Linked DNA regions of Homo sapiens. The protein of the gene in region 4 purifies or fractionates together with the protein of the main gene of each other region. This does not show direct contact. Each region holds a gene or a part of one and is shown on either strand. Other genes may lie near its edges. The genes, in order: DTD2, PPM1H, MYEF2 and RAB35.

Region 1 (5,348 bases), on a different chromosome or scaffold from region 4:
TGGAATAACAGGCCTGAGAGGTAATGCTACAATTTATTATGTTTCCACATACCTCCCTCTACTGGCTATAATTGAGATTTCAGTTAATGCTGTTGGCATACAAATATCAGTATGTAGATAAATACAATGTAGAAACAGTAAGTAGAATTAAAACGAGACAATGAATTAATGGCATGCTGGAAACTCAAATATCCTAAAACAGGTTATCAATCAAGTATCTCTAATGATGTATAGGAGATGTTAAGCTTTGACAGGTTTCTTGCCCTCTCTGTCCAATTATACTGAAGGTGAATTGAGGAAGATTCTACACATCTCTATGTTAACCATGCTATTTCAGATTTTGCAGATTTAACTGGTTATTATATTCTCAAGTGATATATGCTTTGATTGGAAATATCTGAATCTATGTAATAAATATGAGGTGAGGCTTAAGAGAATCCCACCACATTGACTTACTTAGCCTGCTGGAATAGAGGGAAGTACAAGCTAATACTATTAATAATAGATGGACTTACTTTGCTTACAACTCAAACGAGTAGAATATGATTCTTAGAGTCATATATTTCTTTACTGAAAATCATGATATAAAAAATCATGTGTTAGATAGTGTCAGACCATCCACAAGAGTCAGGGTGGACCTCCTCAGTGTTTTAAATTCACTACAATCTTATGCATGTATTTAAAGTGAACTCACAAAGACAGATATGGAAGCACACAGGATTTAATCACTATAAAATAACATGTGGTTTGGATATGATAGGCATATTTCATCCTATTATGATGAAGAACCATTTGAGAATTCATAAGACAACTTTATGAAGTCAATCTTAAGTCAGAATGACAAATACTTTCTTCCTGTTTTTGAAGATTTCTACATTTTTTATGGACCAAAAAAGATTTAATCCAAGGCAAAATATTAATTTAGGAAAGTGGACAGAATGTGTAACACTCCAGCATTAGGATCTGACAATTATTCTCTGTAATAGGAGTCCTCATTACATTATGTTCTTTTTTTTTTTTTTTTTTGAGATGGAGTCTCCCTCTGTCGCCCAGGCTGGAGTGCAGTGGCGTGATCTCGGCTCACTGCAAACTCCACCTCCTGGGCTCATGCCATTCTCCTGCCTCAGCCTCCCGAGTAGCTGGGACTACAGGCGCCCACCACCACACCCGGCTAATTTTTTTGTATTTTTAGTAGAGACGGGGTTTCACCATGTTAGCCAGGATGGTCTTGATCTCCTGACCTCGTGATCTGCCCACCTAGGCCTCTCAAAGTGCTGGGATTACAGGCGTGAGCCACCGCGCCTGGCCTCTCTCTCTCTCTCTTTTTTTTTCTTTCTTCTTCAGACCAGAACATTATGCTCTTAACCCATCAGAGGTTCCTTATTATCTTCTGGATTCAAATTTCAAACTATTGCAGTTACTGGCTTTCCATTCTCACCTAGCATAGTCTCTTAAGTCTGGTTTTCATCTTTTGACAAAGTTGTCAGACATGTTTGATATGTCAGTATAAAATTCCCTCTAGGAGTTTTAGCTTTTTGTCTAAGCTCTTCCTCATTGGCCTATTTGCCCTTGAAGCTCTTCTAGGTTTTCTGTAAGCTTCAACTGCCCATTTGTATAATTAATATTTCTTATTAATCCAACTTATTAATGGATGCTGTCCTTTACTAATGAGGAGAATACAACCTGTTCCCAACCTTAAGGATAGCTTTTCTTTCAAGTTTGTATGTATGTTTGTTTGTGGATATAATCTTTATATCCAAATACTGTCCTGAGAGGGTATGATTTGATTTGGTATATCTGAACCTATGTAATTATCACATGAATTGCTATAGCTATGTGAGATAGTGTATATATACATATCACTATACAGTGCTATAGCCCGTCCAGGAAACCAGAAAGCTGCAGGTAGGTAAATTACTATTCAGAGATCCCTAACATTGACTCTGTTTTCCATGTCCTTGGAGGAGGTGTGGCTGTGATGACACTGAATTCAGCTCAAGACCCAGGAGAACCTTACATCTATTCTTATTTCCACAAGGAAGTGCACACATGGCTAATGCAAATTCTTCCATAATAATGATATAAACTTGAGTTGTCCAGGTTTGATGAGACCCACATCTTGTATATACAGTGTCATCTACTGCCTCTGTTAGGGGCTCTAGGGGATAAAGGAAACTATATTAAGAAATGCAGCATCTGTTTCTCCCTGTGTGACCACCCTACTTCCAAGAAGTTTCTGTATCCTTGGCTGAAGTGCACTGTGTGTATGTGTATGTGTGTACACTCTTCTACATCAATCTGTAAGTCACTGAAATGCTGCAGATGTTTTAAAAAAATTCCACCATACTTGCTTACTTTAAACTTTGAAACAGGCAAATAGCTAAGGCCAATAACACTAGATAGAATTAAGTAATTAATAATTTAACAGCACAATTTAACATTGTGCTTCTTAGGATGGGCAGGGATTGGTTAATGGATACAAAATTATAGCTAGATAGGAGGAATGAGTTCTGGTGTTCTGGAGCACTGTAGGATGAATATGGCTAACTATAATTTATTGTATACTGTCAAAAGTCTAGAAGAAAGGATTTTAAATGTTCACAACACAAATAATAAATTTTTGAGATAATGCATATCTGGTTTGATTGTTATACATTGTATACAGTATTAAAATATCACTATGTATCCCATGAATATGTAAAATTATTATTTATTATTTTAAAAATAAAAGGGGAGGAAAGAGATTGTGCTTTTTGTCCCTTCGGGTTCATTTGTCTATTACTATTCTTTCTCACTCTCTTTTTTTTTTTTTTTTTGAGACAGGGTCTCACTCTGTTGCCCAGGCTGGAGTGCAGTGGCACCATCTCGGCTCACTGCAGCCTCGACCTCCTGGCCTCAAGTAATCTTCCAGCCTCAGCCTCCTAAGTAGCTAGGACCATAGGCACAGGTCACCGTACCCAGCTACTTTTGTTTATTTTTTGTAGAGAAGAGGTCTTACTATGTTGCCCAGGCTGGCTTCTAACTCCTGGGTTCAAGTAATCCACTTGCCTTGGCCTCCCAACGTGTTGGGATTACAGGTGTGAGCACCATGCTTGGCCTCTCACTCTTAAAAAAGAAACAAAGTCAAACACATACCCATTTTGGGAAGAAGTTCTTTATCAGCTCCCTTGAAAAAGCACACGTAGATCACCAGTCCTCTTTGGACCTATGAGAAATCACCACAGTAAACTCAGATTACAACAATATCTGTAAAGATACAGGGCTAAATGGGTACAGTTTCACAACTATTAATATTATAGACATAGAGGTTAAAAGCACAGAAAATGAACTTTACAAAAGATTTCTCATGTGAGAAAACAAAATATTTTTCAATTTTCAATCATCTCAGTTATTTCTTTCAAATTTAAGTTTAAAATATACCCAAGAGCAGTGAAGACAAGTTATACCTTCAAACATTTATTTCTAATCAAAATCATTAAGAGGATCAACCAGCCTTTTCTCAAGTAAGGGTGACAGACTTAGAAACATTTCGTTTGCTGGGCCCCATTTATTCAATGCCAAGTGAATTCACATTATACCAGATACAGCTGATGGATAAACAACATGTGACTGATATCTTTTGACATCATCTCTCTTTATTTCCCCTAATCCATTTACTTACAAATAATGAAAATAAGGGTCTGATTCTATTTCTATAAGCTCCAGGAAACTGTCCAATTATTTGTTGTTGTTGTTGTTATTGTTGTTAATGCTTTATATAAACATGATTAGGACTTGAAAACTGCATTTGTGATAGTAAATTCTACATTAAAAGGTTGGTTGTTATCAGGAATATAGGCTTATTTATTTTACATAATGGCTTGGATATTTCTTAGATCTTGTAGGACAGAGACTATACAGAAAAGAGACATTTGAATAGTGACTTTGATTCTGCTTCTGAGTGAATCATTAGATTTTTTTGATTCTGTAAATTAATCTTGACTCCAGGAGCTATTAGGAAGATTAAATGAGTTAACATTTGTAAAGTACTTAAACACAGTGCCTGGTTCATAGTAAGTGCTATATTAGTGTTTATTAAATGAGTATGTAAAAATAAATTTAAGGGCAGAGGCACAATTTATTTCACATTTTAACTTCCAAAGCACTTTACAGGCTGTTTTGTACACGATAGGGATTCAGTTTATCTGTTGATTGCATTAACATTCAACTATATGTTCCAGGCTCTATGCGTTATCCAAAGAATTTTCTAGATAAATGTAAATGCAGCTCTGCACTCACACGTGATTTACCTGGAAAAGAAGTGAGTTTTAAAAAGTACAATCGTGCTACTGAAACAATAGGCAAGGGCCTCCAATGCATACCCACGAGAAGCTGGCAAGTTATTATAGGTATTTGCACTACTGTCACAGGCCTCTCCACTAGTATTGTTTTCATCATGAATCGAAATCTTAAGCATATTTATATTTGGACACATGCAATGTCAGAAATAAATACCTAATCATTTGCAGAACGATACCTGTTCTTTCCACTAACATTATCTCCTCATTAAGGTCTTTGCCTTTCATTTATTCCATAATAGATGTTAAGCTGTGACTTCAAGTCAAAAATCACTTTCCTTATAACTTCTTTGGTATAAAACATTTCAAATATATAGAAAAATACAGATAATTCTCACTGTAGCTTTAAAAAGTTCACTTACCAGGAACAAAAACATTAGTCTGTGACAGCAAAGTTCTAAATGAATGAAACTAAGAACAAGCAAAGAAAGTAACCTTCAAATCTTGACAATTAAAATGCTGTTTCTAAAAAAACAAGAACTTTTAATAATAGAACAGGGTAGAGAATATGTAAGAAGAAAGAATTTACATTTTCTCACCATCTAAATTACTTGTCAGCTCTTTAAACTAATTTAGTTATGTGTGTAGGAGTGAAAGGGAAAGCCTTTAAAATAGTTTTTAAGTTTATAAACACAAACTGATAGTTTGGATGCCAGCAATAAAATACATGTGATTTTGCATAAGGAGATGTAGCCTGAACAACATAAAAAAGATAAATAAGCATGGAAGGAAACTAAATGACTGATAGTTTGCAATTATAGTGTCTGGATGCAACTATAAAAATGGATAATTCGGCCGGGCACGGTGGCTCAAGCCTGCAATACCAGCACTTTGGGAGGCCGAGGTGGGCGGACCACAAGGTCAGGAGATCGAGACCATCCTGGCTAGCACGGTGAAACTCCGTCTCTAGTAAAAATACAACAAATTAGCCAGGCGTGGTGGTGGGCGCCTGTGGTCCCAGCTGCTTGGGAGGCTGAGGCAGGAGAATGGCGTGAACCCGGGAGGCGGAGG
Region 2 (5,348 bases), about 57 Mb from region 4:
AGTTATGAGCAGTGTTATCCCCATTTTGCAGAAAGGGGAACCGGTATGCCACGTAAGTGTTAATTATCTACTAAGTATTAGTAATAACTGCCACTAAGTGGGCTCTTACTAAGTGCAGGCTCTGTACTGAGCTCTTTGTATCCTGTGTATTAGCCTCATTGTACAGATGAGGAAACTGAGACTGAAAAAGGTGAAGCTACATGCTCAAGGTGATAAACAGCTGTAACTGGGCTAACAGTTGTTTGTTCGCTTGTTTGTTTTTTAACTTGGTTATAAGCAAAATTGCAAGACATGGTCTTCATCAGCTCTGTCCCTTTCATCTTACCCGCCTCCGCTGTGCAGGCTGTGGCACTGGAGAACCCTATCTGGAATAAACCATTGAGGCATAAACTGAAGGTTCTTTCTGTGTATTGAGTGGCTATTTAAAAGCTATTGTGAAACAAAGAATGTTTTACCAACCTTGCATATTATATAGAGGACAAACAGGCTCGAAAGATTTCTTCCCTAGCCATCCCAATACAAGGCTGTTTTGGTATAAACAACCCCTGAAGGTGAGAACTGGCTCTCGAAGCAGTTTCACACTCCATTCATCTCTGAGCTCTGCTGTTTCTCACAGTTTTGGATTCGTGATGAGAATACTGTTGCTGGGTCACTTCATTATTACACAGACCCTAAGGCCAGAAACCCATCTCCCCTTTTTGCTAATTATGCATATGCCAACTTATTTCCTCCCTCTTCAAGCATATAAAGACAGTATTTTCTGGTTTGGTAAAAGACACACACACACAATTCTGTAGGGAGAACAACTCCCTATAAAGGAAGAGGTAGTCAGTGTGGTGAGTGGATGGGGTCTCAGGGAAAATGAAATCCCTAGCAGTCGGTGTCAGGGCAGCAGGTCACTAATTGAGTGCAAACCTTTTTTAAAATGTTGTTTATCCCCTACAGGGCATACAAAACCATTGAGGATGAGGACTTGAAGTTCCCCCTTATATATGGAGAAGGCAAGAAGGTAGGCACGTGTGCTTCCCCTGGGTAGAGAGGACAGGGCTCTGTCCCGCCTTCGCTCCACATAGCCCGTGGCAGTCCGTGTGTTCCACTCAGCAGCTTGTGATTTTATAGCCTTGACAGCTTGAAAGCATATCCCATCCATCATCCTTCAGGCCTCCTGTCTTCAGGGTCCAAGGAGTAGTGGGGGTGGGAGGTGGGCGGTGAGCACAAGGGACTCAAGCCAATTTTGTGAAAATAAAGTCCCCCTTCCCAATCCATTTGAATAACTTTTTACAGTGTTTAAACATGAACCACTTTCACACACATCATCTCATTTATATCTGACAACGAGCAAGGAGGCAGGTCAAGCTGGCTGTGTTATATCCATCTGGCAGACGAGGCAGCTGGGACTGTGAGGTTAAAACAGCTCAGGCAGATCACGCAGCCAAGCGAGGGGCAGCTGCGGATGTGGTGCCTTGGCTTTCTGTCTGCTTCGCGCGTCTCAGACTCCACCATGGAAGTCCAGACTTTGCAAGTCTGTTTGCCACTTGCCCCATGGAAGAGAGTCCAAAGCGTCACTGTAATTAGACTATAAGGTCACAGCAACCAGAGTCCAGACTAAGATAACAAAGACCATCATCAGCTCCCAGGGTTCCAGTCAGAATCCAGCACTGAACAGCACGTTGTCGAACCAAAGAAAAGCTGTGGATCCTAAAGTGGTCTCTGAGCAGAGGCCTGGAGGAGGTTGAAATCCTGGAGTGGAGAGCAAGAAGCTTGGAATCTATTTCCTAGTAAGAACAAACACCTTCTGAATCATTGCATTCTTCCTCGGAACACTAATACATTTCAACTCGGTGTGAAGCATTCCAAGTGAAAAATGTGGTCACATTGAGAAGAGTCTTCAACTGATAATTTTTCCAGCATTCGATACGATAGTTTTTATCAAGAAGAAATGACTCAGAAGAAAACCAAAGGATGCCTTCCATGGGCAGAGTGTGTGTGTGTGTGTGTGTGTGTGTGTGTGTCAGAGCAAAAGCAAGAGAACAAACATGGTTAGGTTTTGGGCTCCGTGTAGACCAGCAGTGATTTCAATGCAAAAAGACATCTCAACAGAAGGAGGAATACCAAACACAAATATCTGATCCATGTAGGAATCATTTTTTAAACGAACATACCCCATTCATGAAAATGAACACCTTTCAGATCACAGTCTCTGGTTAAGAATCGTGTCAGGGCTAATAGGCACTGTTCTGATATAAATATTTGTGCCTTTTGGTACAATGGGCACCATTAATGAGTATCATTCAGCCCAATGACCTATGCCTGCAGCTCCATTTCTTTGTGGGGCTGAGATTCTCTGTATTACCCTTTAATATCCAGTGAGTTCCAGTAAACTCAGGAACACATTCTGTTACCCCTGTATCTCTAGTTCCTGTCTAGCCTGGTACCTGACATAAATGCATAAGTATTAAATAAGCTGTTCAGTTATGTTCAGTATACTTTCCTTAGTACAATAGGAAAATGGAATGATGTATTCTTGGAAGTTTATAGCAGTAAGATTTGAAGGAGCAAGAGTTTTCTAATTTTAGTATAAAGTTCAATTCACCAAAACATCATGTTCCTCAAGCATTTCAGGTAATTTAAGCTTGATGGTCTTGCGATGGGCAGGTGGCAAGTTCTGTCCGTGTACCTGTTGGCCTATTTAAAAGCCACCATGTCTCCATTTTGCTTTTGTTGGTAGATACCACCCCTTTCTGAGGACTCCATGAGTTCTTGGAGCTCCTTCTAGATCCTGGACTGGGATTTTCTCTTTCTTCTCCGCGTACCCCTACGCAGAAATTTCAGAGTACTTCTGTGGCCATTACTTCTCATTTTCTTTCTTCAGATGCTTTTAAAGACTGGTGTGGGTAACACCTGGATACTTCGTAAACAAGGTCAGTCACTAGCAGAAACATCAGATTTCTTTGGCTGGAAAGAGCACACAGAGAAGCCGCCATTTCAGGGAGGAGAGCAGGAGAGCCACAAGGGACTCAGAATTTTTCACATTTAGAGTTGAGCACTTCTTGGCTAGAAGGGAGCCAGTCCAGCCTCCCAGCAGGGCAGAGGGCCCCAGGCTTTGCTTTGCATCACTTTTTTTTTTTTTTTTTGAGACATGGCATCAGGCTGGAGTACGGTGGCACAATCTCGGCTCACTTCAGGCTCGACATCCCAGGATCAGGTGATCCTCCCACTTCAGCCTCCTGAGTAGCTGGGACTACAGGCGCATGCCACCACACTGGCTAATTTTTGTATTTTTTGTAGTCAGGAGGTTTTACCACATTGCCCTGGCTAGTCTCAAACTCCTGGGCTCAAGTGATCCTCCTGCCTTGGCCTCCCAAAGTGCTGGGATTACACATGTGAGCTACTGTGTCTGGCTGTGTCTCGTGTCTTTATCCCCTCTGACCCTTGCCCTCAAAAAGGTGTCATGGTTTCATTTCTGCTTAATGTGAACTCTGCCTACCTTCCGAACCAAGGCTGGCTTCAAAATTCACAGCCCTGTTGACAGTCTAGGATGAAGATGAAGACAATATATTAAATTGCAGTGTTTCTTAGCATTTATTTACTTCATCCCCACTCATAGGAGGTAATTACTCTTATCACCCAGGTAATAGAGTGAGGATTCAAGCTCAGGTCTTTGAACCATTTCACTACACCGGATATATTTTTTATGATTAAGGGTTAGGACACTGCTTTCTTCCACCCAGGATGACTTTCACTCCATCCCTCTGTGTCGCCTGTCTTGATGCAATCCACCTTTCTGTGCTAAGTGCCACCTCCTCCGTGGAGCCTTCTCAGTAGAATTTTTACCTCCTCTAAACTTGCATAACCCATTGTCTATGTGTTTTTCAGTACTTAACCATATTTTATGTGTTATTAATTACACATCTCCCTCTTATCTCCCTTACCAAGTTTCTTTTTGGTTTTTTTATTTGTTTGTTTGTTGGTTTGAGACTGAGTCTCACTGTGTCACCCAGGCTAGACTGCAGTGGCATGATCTCAATTCACTGCAACCTCCACCTTCCAGGTTCAAGTGATTCTCATGCCTCAGCCTCCAAGCAGCTGGGATTACAGGTGCCCACCACCATGCCTAGCTAAATTTTGTATTTTTCGTAGAGATGGGGTTTCACCATGTCAGCCAGGCTGGTCTCAAACTCCTGACCTCAAGTGATCCACCTGCCTCAGCCTCCCAAAGTGCTGGGATTACAGGCAAGAGCCACCGCACGTGGCCCCAAGTTTCTTTGTAGTAGGGACGAGGCCTTAGACATTTGTGTCCCCAACATATGATGTAAGTACATAGTAGGCACCCAATAAATGTTTGGGTAAATCAGATCTTCAGCATAACAGGAGATATTTAAGCTGACTGTGTAGGCATTGGTGTAATAGTGTTACTTCCTTACACCATTCAAAAACAGTTCAGGATGAGGTCTCAGCCCTGAGGCCTCTGTGTAGCTATGTCACAGCACTGGTGACATTTTGTTCCTTTCCACCCAGAGGGAATTTGTGGAGATCTTAGCAGGATAGGTTATAGAGTTGATAAGTTTCTTTTCTCCAGCCATAAAACATAATAGGTGAACTCTGGGAGGGCAAGAGCTATTTCTGATTTTTTACACCTTTTACTAGTACATATCACAGGACTAAGGACATAGCTGGTGTTGAGCAAATACTTGTACAGTGGATATGTAACAGAAAGATTGGTGGGTGTGTGGATGGGTGGGTGGATGGATGGATGGATGGATGGATGGATCGATCAATCCTATTGGGTTTGATATGAACTGATTTCTGCAGCTGTAGACGTCACGCATGCATTGGAGTTAGTTTATTGGACATCCTTCCTTCCAGTCTCCAAAAAAAGAAAGCTGAAAAGAAACAGCAGCAACCTGTCAAGCTTAAGATAATGGATAGAAAAAGCACTCCTCAAATACAGAAGTGATTTTGGTGAGCCCTTTCTTGGTAAGAGCTATCCACGTATGTTAGCAGCAAGGGGCCTGGAAACATATCTGGGCAGGAGGAACTGGAAAATTGTTTGGTTGTTCCTAGCCCAGGCAGCTGCACTGGAATGGGATGCTTTCACTGTGTGCGTGTTTCTGATGACCCTCTGCTTATACTCCTAGGCCCGGGTAATGGCAACTATTGGAGTGACCAGGGGACTTGGGGACCATGACCTGAAGGTGCATGACTCCAACATCTACATTAAACCATTCCTGTCTTCAGCTCCAGAGGTACCGCATGAGGTTTTTGTTTATATTTTGTGCAATAAAACATTTTCGGCGTTATTCCTCCTGTGACTCACACCCCATATCCAGACAGTAGCCAACTTGTAT
Region 3 (5,348 bases), on a different chromosome or scaffold from region 4:
TTGGTCAGCCTACACACAACAGCTGTTTTAAGGTGACTTTCTACCTGAATGTCTTCAATCATGTTTGCCATCAGTAAACTAAATTTACAAATCATGCTTCACAGCAAGCCACACACTTTCTAAATAAAGTCAATGAATAAAACCAATCAAATAGTTGTCACCTTACAACAGATACACCAATGCAATTTAAAAAAAAAAATTTATTAGAAGAGATCAGCCTCAAAGCCAAGTACATAGTTTGCAGGACTGTTGAAACTCAATTTTTCAAGAGATAACAAAACTAACTTTTACAAGATCAAGTATTAAAATTATTTTTCCCCAAAACCAACCATGTATATAAGATGAAGGTTTTCAGATTATTCTGAAAACAAAACTGCAACAGCAGTAATGCAATTTTAATTTAGAACTGCAAAGACAGCATCATGGCAGTCATGACAATGCAAACAAAATAAATTCCACAGCCAGATTCCAGACTCCACCAAGATAGTAACAAAACAGCTTTTGGAAAAAAAATAAATAATCAGACCTTATTATTCATTCTTAACACGCTAAATGTATTGCTTAACTAATGCAATAGCCCTTTTAAAATCTATAAAAACTTCAACTAGACAAAGCAATCACTTTAACAAAATTCTTGGTGGCATGCATATGCTGGCTCGCTACTATCCCACTAAAATGGCAAAAAGAAAAATATCCATACTACCTTGTAATGAAATTGTGTCAAGAGAAAGAAGAGGAAAAGATTAATTCACATGTCAAGAAATAAAAATCAATTTTTTGAGTCTGTGTGGCTCAGAGGAATAAAAATGTTTGTGTAGTTCCCTCCCCTGCCTATATGAAGATTATCCAACAGTGGGTTATTTCAGAGATAGTTACCTTTCTCTCTCATTAGATCTTTAATAGCTTGCCATTTCATGTCATATGGGATGTTGCTAATGAAAACTCTGTTACGATTTGGACCCTTCTTTTCTCCAGCGCCCGAATTCTTGTCTTTTGAATAAGGATGAAATCTATTGGCCTTCTTACTTCCTGTAGATTTTTCCTTTAAGTCAGATTTCTCTTCTTTTGCTGATTCATCATTCTCCCTGTGAATTAAAAAAAGTCAAACAAACAAAAACCCTCAGTTGTGCTTATAAGAATGGAAGTCTATATTAAATAAGTATTCCATATTTATCACCTCACAAAACTCTCCACTAAGCTAGACCTCAGCAAAGTAGCTGGAGAATCAGCCTGAGAGCTTTGAAATTACCCAATGCTATTTCAAAGCAAGGATTTGGTTTCTCATTTAACAGTCCTCATTTTTTTCCCACATTAAATAGTTGTAAGCATCCAAACAATCACCCAGTTTTTCCCATCACACTACTTAATTAATAAATGCTATTAGACTGGAACAGAGGGAAGAGCAGATAATTTTACTTCTAAGGTATCTAAAACTGCCACCTTTGATGGAGAATTAACTTTCTGGGCATCATTAAAAACTTTTTTAAAAACTAACTTACACAGTGATACTCTGAAAAAGTTCATCTCTTAAAGGTTAATAGTTTCTTCTCAGAACTTTCTCCTCCCTTAATTAGAAGCATAATTAAAATACAAAGTTATGTATATAAATCCACATCTATATATGAATATACTCACATTAAGACTCTCAAACTTTCTTCTATTCCCAATTTTGATCAACACAGAAAACTTATAAAGTATCCTAATATTTTATGTTACATTTTAACCTATAAACTAGAATAGGGTACTTCATCAAATTATGCAGTTTCATTAATATTACCTACAATGGGTAATGTAGGACAGAAGCAGTACATAAAAGCAACGTAAGCCAAAATTTTATAAACCTGATTTTTTTTTTTTTTTTGAGACGGAGTTTTGCTCTGTCACCCAGGCTGGAGTGCAGTGGTGCAATCTCGACTCACTGCAACCTCCGCCTCCCAGGTCCAAGCAATTCTCTGCCTTAGCCTCCTGAGCAGCTGGGATTACAGGTGCCCACCACCATGCCCAGCTAATTTTTTGTATTTTTAGTAGAGACGGGGTTTCATCATCTTGGCCAGGCTGATCTTGAACTCCTGACCTCGTGATCCACTCACCTCGCCTCCCAAAGTGCTGGGATTACAGGCGTGAGCCACCACGCCTGGCCAAACCTGATTTTTAATGAGGCCTTAACTAGAAAAAAAAGTAATTTATAATACCGTAATCACAATGCAACTCTATGATGTCATATGCCAACCATCCAAAAGATGTAGGCATACACTTAAACCCTACAGATAAAAATTTGGATTTCTATTTTAAAATGCAATTTACTTTTCAAAACAAGTCTTTTTTACAGCACAAACAATAGGGTTTTTTGTGGGGGTTTTTGTTGCTGTTGTTGTTGTTGTTGTTGTTTGAGATACAGTCTCATTCTGTCACCCAGGCTGGAGTACAGTGGCAAGATCTCGGCTCACTGCAATCTCCGCCTCCTGGGTTCAAGGAATTCTCCTTCCTCAGCCTCCCAAGTAGCTGGAATTACAGGTGTCTGCCACTACACCCAGCTAATTTTTGTATTTTTAGTAGAGACAGGGTTTCACCATGTTGGCCAGGCTGGTCTCAAACTCCTGACCTCTGGTGATCCACCCGCCTCGGCCTCCCAAAGTGCTGGGATTACAGGTGTGAGCCACCGTGCCCGGCCAATAGATTTCTTATTTAAATAAGTGCTCTAGTCAATTTAAAACTATTTTAATAACAAAACTTCAATTTTAAAGCAATTTTTCACAAACATTACTAATAATATCACTGTGGATGACACCCAGGAATCTAAATTTTTTTTAAAGCTTTCTGGATTATTCTGACAACAAACCAAGTTTCATGAGCCAGGCTCTAAATTATCTTCTAAGCCCAGCAATTCTGGTGATCCACACATTGCAATGCTCCACACACCTCTAACTGCAGTCATTTGTTACATAATATATACAGAGCTTCTTGAACACTACTCTTCTTTGTAGGTAACACAGCCATAAATATAGTATGTAAACTCTATGAGAACAAAAACTATCTGCTTTGGTATCAGCAGCACCTCGCACGGTGACTGCATATAACATTGTGCTATAATTTTTTAATGAATTAACAGTCAATTAAGAATCCATACTCATCTGAGCACAGATGTTGCCAGAAAAACTGCTAGAATAAAGAAAGAGACATTTGGACCAAACTTGCTTTGCCATTTTTTTTAGACCTTAAAAAGGACATCTTCACTATCAAACATATTCCTTCATCAGAAATGGCATGGCCTAGGGGGGAGTCTTCTCAACTGTCTAAATCTAGAAAGTACCTACCTGTCTAAACAGAGTGACACTTTTGAAAATGGCAGCAAGCAGCCAAAAGGCACAAAGGCCTTTTCTCTGGTTTCTGAGTACCGCAGATAGAAGAACAAACCTTTCTTTTCAATTCCCAAAGGGCCTGTTTACATAATAGGCTTAGATGAATTCAGTGAATGTTTGTAAAGTAACTAAGACTCTATTCAGTAAGCAGATATCTATATAGTCTCTAGATTAATACCCCTTCCCCTGCCTATTTTCTTCCTGGATTAAACCAATTGTGAAAATTACACAAAGTTCTGAAGTACTTACAATGTTCTATTCTTGACTTAGGTGGGGTTACATAGATTAAATATTTGCTTACAACAATCTGAAAATTCCATTAAAAACAGTAACATTATATATAATATTTTCTTTAAAATATTTACTCAAAGATGATCAGAGAAAGTAAATTTCTTCATTTTTCCCCCATAAGAAGCATCTTAAAAATACTGCTAAACTGCTCATCTATGATGTAGAATTAAAATTTATCTTAAGTTTCTTCCCAGTGTATAACAAAAAAAGAAAAAAAACTATAAAAGGCATAACAGTTGAGAGGCTACAGGGATGATCTAATTATTAAGAAACTGAGCCATAATTATATAATTTCTGAACTATTTCCAAGTCATAAATACTTTGGAAGAGAAAGTAAAAATATATGTGAAAACTCTTAAGGAAATGATGCTACATAATTCCAAAATATTGGTACTACATCCAGAATTCCAAGTACTAAATTCCCAAACTGTTCATTTAGACAACCACTCCCACAATGTACTTAAAATAAAAACCCTAAAATAGTCATAAAAATGTTATCTATTCTTAAAATTGAACTATGCGTATCTAAATTATAACATACATTTCTGAAAAAAATCAAGCTCCAACATCAAAAGAAGAAACATAGTTTTAATGTGTGATTTTAAAAGTATAATGGTGTAGTATGAGATCCAATATTAATCCCAGTTCCAGAGGAAAACTACCAGAGGGCAGTTCAGAGCAGTAAATGTCTACATTAAGAAAAACGACCTCCAGGCCAGGTGCAGTGGCTCACATCTGTAATCCCGGCACTTTGGGAGGCCAAGGCAGGTGGGTGACTTGAGGTCAGGAGTTCGAGATGAACCTGGCCAACATGGTGAAACCCCGTCTCTACTAAAAATACAAAAATTAGCCAGACGTAGTGATGCATGCCTGTAATCCCAGCTGCTTGGGAGGCTGAGGCAGGAGATTCACCTGAACCCAGGAGGCAGAGGTTGCAGTGAGCCAAGATCACACCATTGCACATTTTTTTTTTGATACAGAGCAAGACTCTGTATCAAAAAAAAAAAAAAGAATAAAGATCTCCAACAACCTAACTTTACACCTCAAGGAACTAGAAAAAAGAGCTCAGTCCAAACTTAGTAGAAAGAAGAAAATAATGAAAATCAGGGCAAAAATAAATGAAATATACTAGAAAAACAATAGAAAAGATCAATAAAATTAAAAGTTGGTTTTTGAAAGATAAGCAAAACTGACAAAGATCAAACTAGATTAAGGGGGAAAAACAATCAGAAATCAAAGAGGAAAAAATAGAAAAATATATAAAGAAATCAAAGAGGAGACATTATAACAGATACCACAGAAATACAGAGAATCATAAGAAACTACTATTAACAATTATATACCAACAAATTGGATAACTTAGAAGAAATTAATAAATTCCTGGAAATATACAACTCACCAAGGCTGAATCATGAAAAATTAGAAAATCTGAACTGTCCACTAACAAGGGAGATGGAGTCAGTAATCAAAAATCTCCCAAGAAAGAGAAGCCCAGGACCTGGTAAATTCTACCAAACATTTAAGAACTAATACCAATCCTTGTCAAACTGTTCCAAAAAACTGAACATGAGGAAAGTCTTTCAAATCATTTTATAAGGCCAAGATTACCCTGATAACAACGCAAGACAAGGATCCTACAAGAAAAGAAAATTACAGCAATATCCCTGATGATCACAGATGTGAAAATTCTCAACAAAA
Region 4 (5,348 bases):
TGAACTAAGATCGTTAAAGGGCCTGGCACATAGTAGGCACTCAATAAATGGCAGTTACTATGACATTTTCTGTTGGTCATTTAGATGCCTCAAGCAGGCCAGCAGCATGGAGAAGGCGGCCACGGGTGTGTGGCAGAGCCACAGTGGCCCAGGGCCTCACCTCTTCCACGTTGACATTCTCCTTGGCGCTGGTCTCGAACAACTGGATGCCCATCTGCCCGGCGAATTTGTAGGCATCTTCCGTCTCCACCACCTTCCGCTCAGGGTCGTCATTCTTATTACCCACTTCAAACGAAGGCAGAGTCAGCGCAGCCCTGAGGGGCGCAGCCGGCTGCCTCTCTCCCACCCAACCCCGACCCGGCCCTGAGTGCAGCCTCACCTAATATTCGGCACACATCATCACAGTTCTGGTTGATTTCGTGAAGCCACCGCTTGACGTTGACAAAGGACTCGGCACTGGTGACGTCGTAAACCACAATGACCCCGTGGGTCCCCCGATAATACCTGCAGGGCCAGAGTGTGCGGCAGCATGTCAACCCCGACAGGAGTCACCCCCTTGCCGGGACCCACCTGCCCACGTCAGGACACTGACCCGGAAAAGGTGAGGGTGGCCCTGGAGCCTGGGCTCTCACTCAGCCTCGGCAGATGCCCCCGAGCCACAACAGGCCAGCAGGAGAGGCTACTGCGGCAGCACTGACTCCCCCTGCCCGCCCGGGGCACCAACAGGGCGGGAGGGCCAGCCCCTGGGCAGCAGAGCAGGTCTGAGGAGTCACCTCCTGCTGTTCAGAGTCTGCTGCAGGCTTGAAACATCTTTGAAGTTCTTGCTTTATTTTGGGAAATCAGGCAGTTTTTGTATTTGACATCATGTTATCACTGTCTTTGAACATTCAAAAAAATATTTGCTCCTCAAACCTGTTTTAGAGAACCTTTCCAAGAAGCCACACCATCATGACGCCCTGGCAAAGTCTGTGCCCCTCCCCTGGGGCAGGTAGGCACCTCCCTTCCTGCTACTCTTGGCTCATCTGTGCAGGTGGCAGGAAAAGCATGGAAGCCACACAAGCATCCAGGGATGGCTGGGGAGAGGGCGCCCAGCAAAGCCATCACCCCAAACATGCAGAGCCCAGGGCCAGCCAGGAAGGCCAGAAGGAAGGGGAGGCCCAACTCTCCTCTCCAGACCCCATGTCCCCATTCATCCCAGTGGCACAGGACGACATCAATCCCCGGAGGAGGAGGGGGACCACAGCCTCCGCTTCCCCGAGAGCTGTCGAAGAGCCGGAGGCCAGGCGGCAGCCCCGCCCCACACTGTGCAATCAGCCAGAGCTGTCCCTCTGTCCCCTCTCCCCAAAGCCGCAGGGACCTCCACCCCAGGGCTCCTCAGGACAGCACACAGACAAACCATGAGTGGACAGGCCGCTTCCTCCCGGCTTTCTGGCTGCCACCTGCCCCAGCCCTAATTACCTCCACCCCCATGAGGTTCATGGGGACAGCCCAAGCCCCAGTTCAGGAACAGCCCAAGTCAGCGCAGGCTGAGCAAGAATGGGGCAGCCAGGCTGACTTGTGGCTGCAGCTCCATTCCTGTCCACCTGCCCATCAGCTCTCTGGCCAATGCTTCACATCTGAGGCCCGATCTAAGGACAAAGACCAACCCTGGCTCCATCTCTGAAAGGCTGGCCCTTGGGAAGGTGCCTGCATTCACCCTGCCACACCTTGCAGCTTCAACAGTTATAGCACACAGGTGGCTAGTCCTTAACTGGGGTGGTCATGAGGAAGAAAGGAGCTAAGCATTACCCCAAGGCGGGGGAGCAGTAAACAGTCAGTATGCGTTCTTCAGCATCATCAATGTGCCTTCAAGGACAATCTGTGGTCCCAGACAGAGGTGGTGGAAGGAAACCAACAGGCAGCTTAGGGGCAGCCCTGAGCATCTTCCCTGATGCTGCAGAGCCAGAGCTCCTGCCCAGCCCTGGGACAAAGCCCAACCTGCCCCTGCCACCGCCCCTGCCCCATCCTTGCTCCATCCTCAACACGACCGCTGGGATCTCTTCCCAGGGCTTCATTCTGCCCACAGCTTTGCTTCCAGGGCAGCGTCGCTCCTTGGCTTCGGGGTAGCTGTGACGATCAAGCTCTCTTGGCACTGGGCCCAAGAACTAGCTCTGGCCTTGGCAGCTGCTGCTGAGAGCGCCGGGTCAGCACATGGCATGGTGTGTCAGACGCCTTCCAGAGCGAGGGCGCGCCGGAGCCACAGGAACAGGCGACTGTCCCCTGCCAGCAGAGGAAGCCCAAGGAGCGGATGGCTCTGCAGACTCTCCTTTGCTGAAGATGATCAGAGATGCCAAGAAACGCCTGCAGCCATGGCCCCGGCGCACAGCCCCCGCGGCTCCCTGGGCGCCTCTGCCTCATCCGGGGCCCAGGAAAGGGGCTTTATCTGAGAGCAGAGAATTTGTCTGGGGATGAAGTCAGGGGCTCAGAGCTCTGGCTAGGAGGAACCGGAGCACCGACGTTTCCCATGGCCACCAGGAATCACCTTCACTCACAGGGACTCTGCTCTAGGCCAGGCACAGAGCTGGGGGCTTGGTATCCATTACCTTATTAATGTCTGCAGCCACCTGATCCAGCAGACCTCAGGATGGCCATGTGACCAGCAAGGACGTGAGGCTGAGTGCAGCGGCCAGCTGGAAGTCCTGGCGCCCAGGGCTGACTCCCAGGCCCAACGCCAGGGCCTTGCCTTCCTTGTCACTTCTCCCCTCACCTCCATCCCACCCGCACCTCTCAGGGCCGGCAAACCTCAGCTTCTGAGAGCAAGAACCCGAGAAGGGGTGACCACAAGGCTTTTTCTCGCCAGGCTAACAGGATGCAGTTTCAGTTTCTCTCTGAACGCCCTGCATCGGAAAAAAGTCACGCTACTGCATCCTGACTGCCCTATTCCTGAAAACTCCTCACCTCCCCAAAACTCCTTCCTTCTTTGCCAGTGACCATCAAAGGGCGTCGAGACTTCCAGTGGCCCCTCAGGGCGCCCTGCTGGGCCTCCTGCCTCATGAGGGCCAGAGCGGGACTCTAAGATGGAGCCACCTGTCTGCTTCCCCAGACACGTGGGACGGCAGCAGGGGCCCAGCCGCTGCCCACAGGCCGCCCCTTCCCAAGCCCCTGGGGAAAAACCCATGTTGCTCCCAGGAAGCTGAGTGACTCCTCCCCGCCTCCCCACGGAATGGAGGAACCAGTTCACCTTCTTCCCGCTCTGCCCAGCCCAGAAAGCAGCTGACTGCATGATGGCAGGGAGGGGCTGTGGCTCCTCCTGCTGAAAGAGCCTCGGACCCCCCAGGCCCCACTGCCCTGCCCAGGAGTTCATTCCTCATGGCCACGGGCCTCTGAACCTCTGCCACCCTGAACCTCCGCCTGGTTTTAAGGCACAGGACGGGGCAGGAAGGCAGGGGCGCCACCTGCCCAGTCGATGCAGGGCCTCGGCAGACTCAGGGCCAACCCTGAGTGCCCCCAACCTCTGCCCCACTGAGTTAGGAGGCTTCATCCTCCCTGGGCCTGTTTTCCTGTCCATAAAATGGAGATAGTCACAGGTCTCTCTACCGGGATTAACCAAAATAAAGCAGCTGAAATCCTAGCGACAGGACCAACCCAGAGCAAGGATTCATGAGGTCAGCGCCCAGACCAGCCAACGGCATGAGGGCTTGCCTCGCCTGGGCCTGCAGCCCCAGGCTGCCCAAAGCACTGATGCCAGCCCTGCCCCAGTGTCCTCCGCAGATTCTCACTGGCAGCTGCCAAGACATGCAGGCCACAGAGCCCTCGCTCACAGGGCTCATCAACGGTCACCACACAGCACCACACCAGGGCGACCCCGGGACTGGGAGCTCCCAGGGATTCCGGGCATCACGGGCCACAGCACAAATGTGCTCAGCATAGGGTGAACCCAGTGACAAGCCCTCCGCCTTGGCTCCAGCCCCAGGAGCTGCTCGCCCAGCACACCTGTCCCTCTCCAGCAGCCCTGCTCTCCCCCATACTCCCAGCCATCCATGGGGGCGCTGCACCCCACACTTCCCACCCTCGGGAGATGCCGAGGGGCCCGGGGGCAGGGGCAGCCAGCCTGGGGAGTGCCGGGCTTTCATGCTGTGGGAAGGAAGGGGGCCGCTGGCTGGGACTTCCTCATTCGCCTTCCTGAGGTCACTTCCAGAGGAGCTGCTCGAGAGAGCCAAGGAGGTGCCCGTGGAGCCAGACAGCCGCCCCTCACTCTGCACAGGCCACTGTGTGGAGCACAGGCTTGGCCGCTGGGAGGGACCCCTCCAGGGCGCCCTCTGTCAAATGGGATGACAGCAGCACCAAGCACACAGAGCTGCCAGACACCACACCCCGGCACGCACGTTGACGCCTGCAGCAGAGCACCTGGCACCCTCCACATGGAAGCCAATCCCAGAGGCAGGCCCTCCAGGAAACGAGCGCAGAGAGCTTCGGCAACTTGCCTAAGGACACACAGCCCAACAGCTCCAAATCGGCCCCTTCAGACCCTGCTCTTTCCTAAAACCTGCTCCACTAACAACCCAATAACCAGGAGCCGCTCCGAAGGACACTGCCCATCTGCGCAGGAGCCCAGCTTCCCCCCGGCCTGCAGCTCAGCCACAAAGGTGGGCAACCGGTGGGCGGCCGGATTTCCCAGGAACAGCTTTAAGGGTAGGGAAGGGCCTGCTGACATGCACCGTGTTCGTCTCTAGACAGCGTCACTTCCAAGGCATCAGTGCAGGTGACGGGAGCCTGCACAGGCCAACTCCAGCTGCCATAACTGACACCTACCAAGAGGAATTGTCAGCGACTAAGTCCTGGGTGGGCAAGGCACTTCGCAACCCCCTAGCGAGGCAAATGCTATTCTGCTCTCTCTGTAAGGTGACGGCACAGTGGGCCGGAGGGTCGGCTGACTCTCCAAGGAGATAGAACATGGCCACTGTCCGGCCAGACTCCAGCCAGGGTGCTCAGCGACTCCCCCACAGCACCCCCCTCACATCTTCAGGACCAGGAAGGGTGCAGCCAAACGCCACCTACTACAGCCAACAACAGGCTCACTTCCCGACAGCCTCAGGGACCCACCAGTGACATTTCCACCATGACCAGGCACCGGTCGCTCAACTGTGTCCACAGGTCAGTGGCGCGGGTTGGGTGGGAGTGGGCGTGTGGACTCACGTGGAGGTGATGGTGCGGAAGCGCTCCTGCCCCGCTGTGTCCCAGATCTGCAGCTTCACCTTCTCCCCGTTGATCTCCACGGTCCGGATCTTGAAATCCACTCCGATCGTGGTGATGTAGCTGCCTGCACACACAGGGCAGTTAACGAGGCCCAGCGCGGTATCTTCCCAGGC

What was found.
Region 1: the proteins of RAB35 (region 4) and DTD2 fractionate together in Homo sapiens (co-fractionation; one large-scale study listed by BioGRID). This does not show direct contact.
Region 2: the proteins of RAB35 (region 4) and PPM1H purify together in Homo sapiens (co-immunoprecipitation; one study listed by IntAct). This does not show direct contact.
Region 3: the proteins of RAB35 (region 4) and MYEF2 fractionate together in Homo sapiens (co-fractionation; one large-scale study listed by BioGRID). This does not show direct contact.

What each region holds. Positions count from the first base shown.
Region 1 is NC_000014.9:31,450,140-31,455,487, forward strand, and holds part of DTD2 (D-aminoacyl-tRNA deacylase 2), read right to left. Parts: intron 3,206-5,348; coding exon 3,136-3,205; intron 2,745-3,135; exon of another isoform or gene 1,968-2,744; intron 1-1,967. UniProt on the Homo sapiens protein: Deacylates mischarged D-aminoacyl-tRNAs. Also deacylates mischarged glycyl-tRNA(Ala), protecting cells against glycine mischarging by AlaRS. Probably acts by rejecting L-amino acids from its binding site rather than specific recognition of D-amino acids.
Region 2 is NC_000012.12:62,689,597-62,694,944, reverse strand, and holds part of PPM1H (protein phosphatase 1H), read left to right. Parts: intron 1-945; coding exon 946-1,009; intron 1,010-5,138; coding exon 5,139-5,246; intron 5,247-5,348. UniProt on the Homo sapiens protein: Dephosphorylates CDKN1B at 'Thr-187', thus removing a signal for proteasomal degradation.
Region 3 is NC_000015.10:48,167,755-48,173,102, forward strand, and holds part of MYEF2 (myelin expression factor 2), read right to left. Parts: intron 1,086-5,348; coding exon 877-1,085; intron 1-876. UniProt on the Homo sapiens protein: Transcriptional repressor of the myelin basic protein gene (MBP). Binds to the proximal MB1 element 5'-TTGTCC-3' of the MBP promoter. Its binding to MB1 and function are inhibited by PURA.
Region 4 is NC_000012.12:120,098,651-120,103,998, forward strand, and holds part of RAB35 (ras-related protein Rab-35), read right to left. Parts: intron 5,300-5,348; coding exon 5,176-5,299; intron 505-5,175; coding exon 380-504; intron 286-379; coding exon 161-285; intron 1-160. UniProt on the Homo sapiens protein: The small GTPases Rab are key regulators of intracellular membrane trafficking, from the formation of transport vesicles to their fusion with membranes.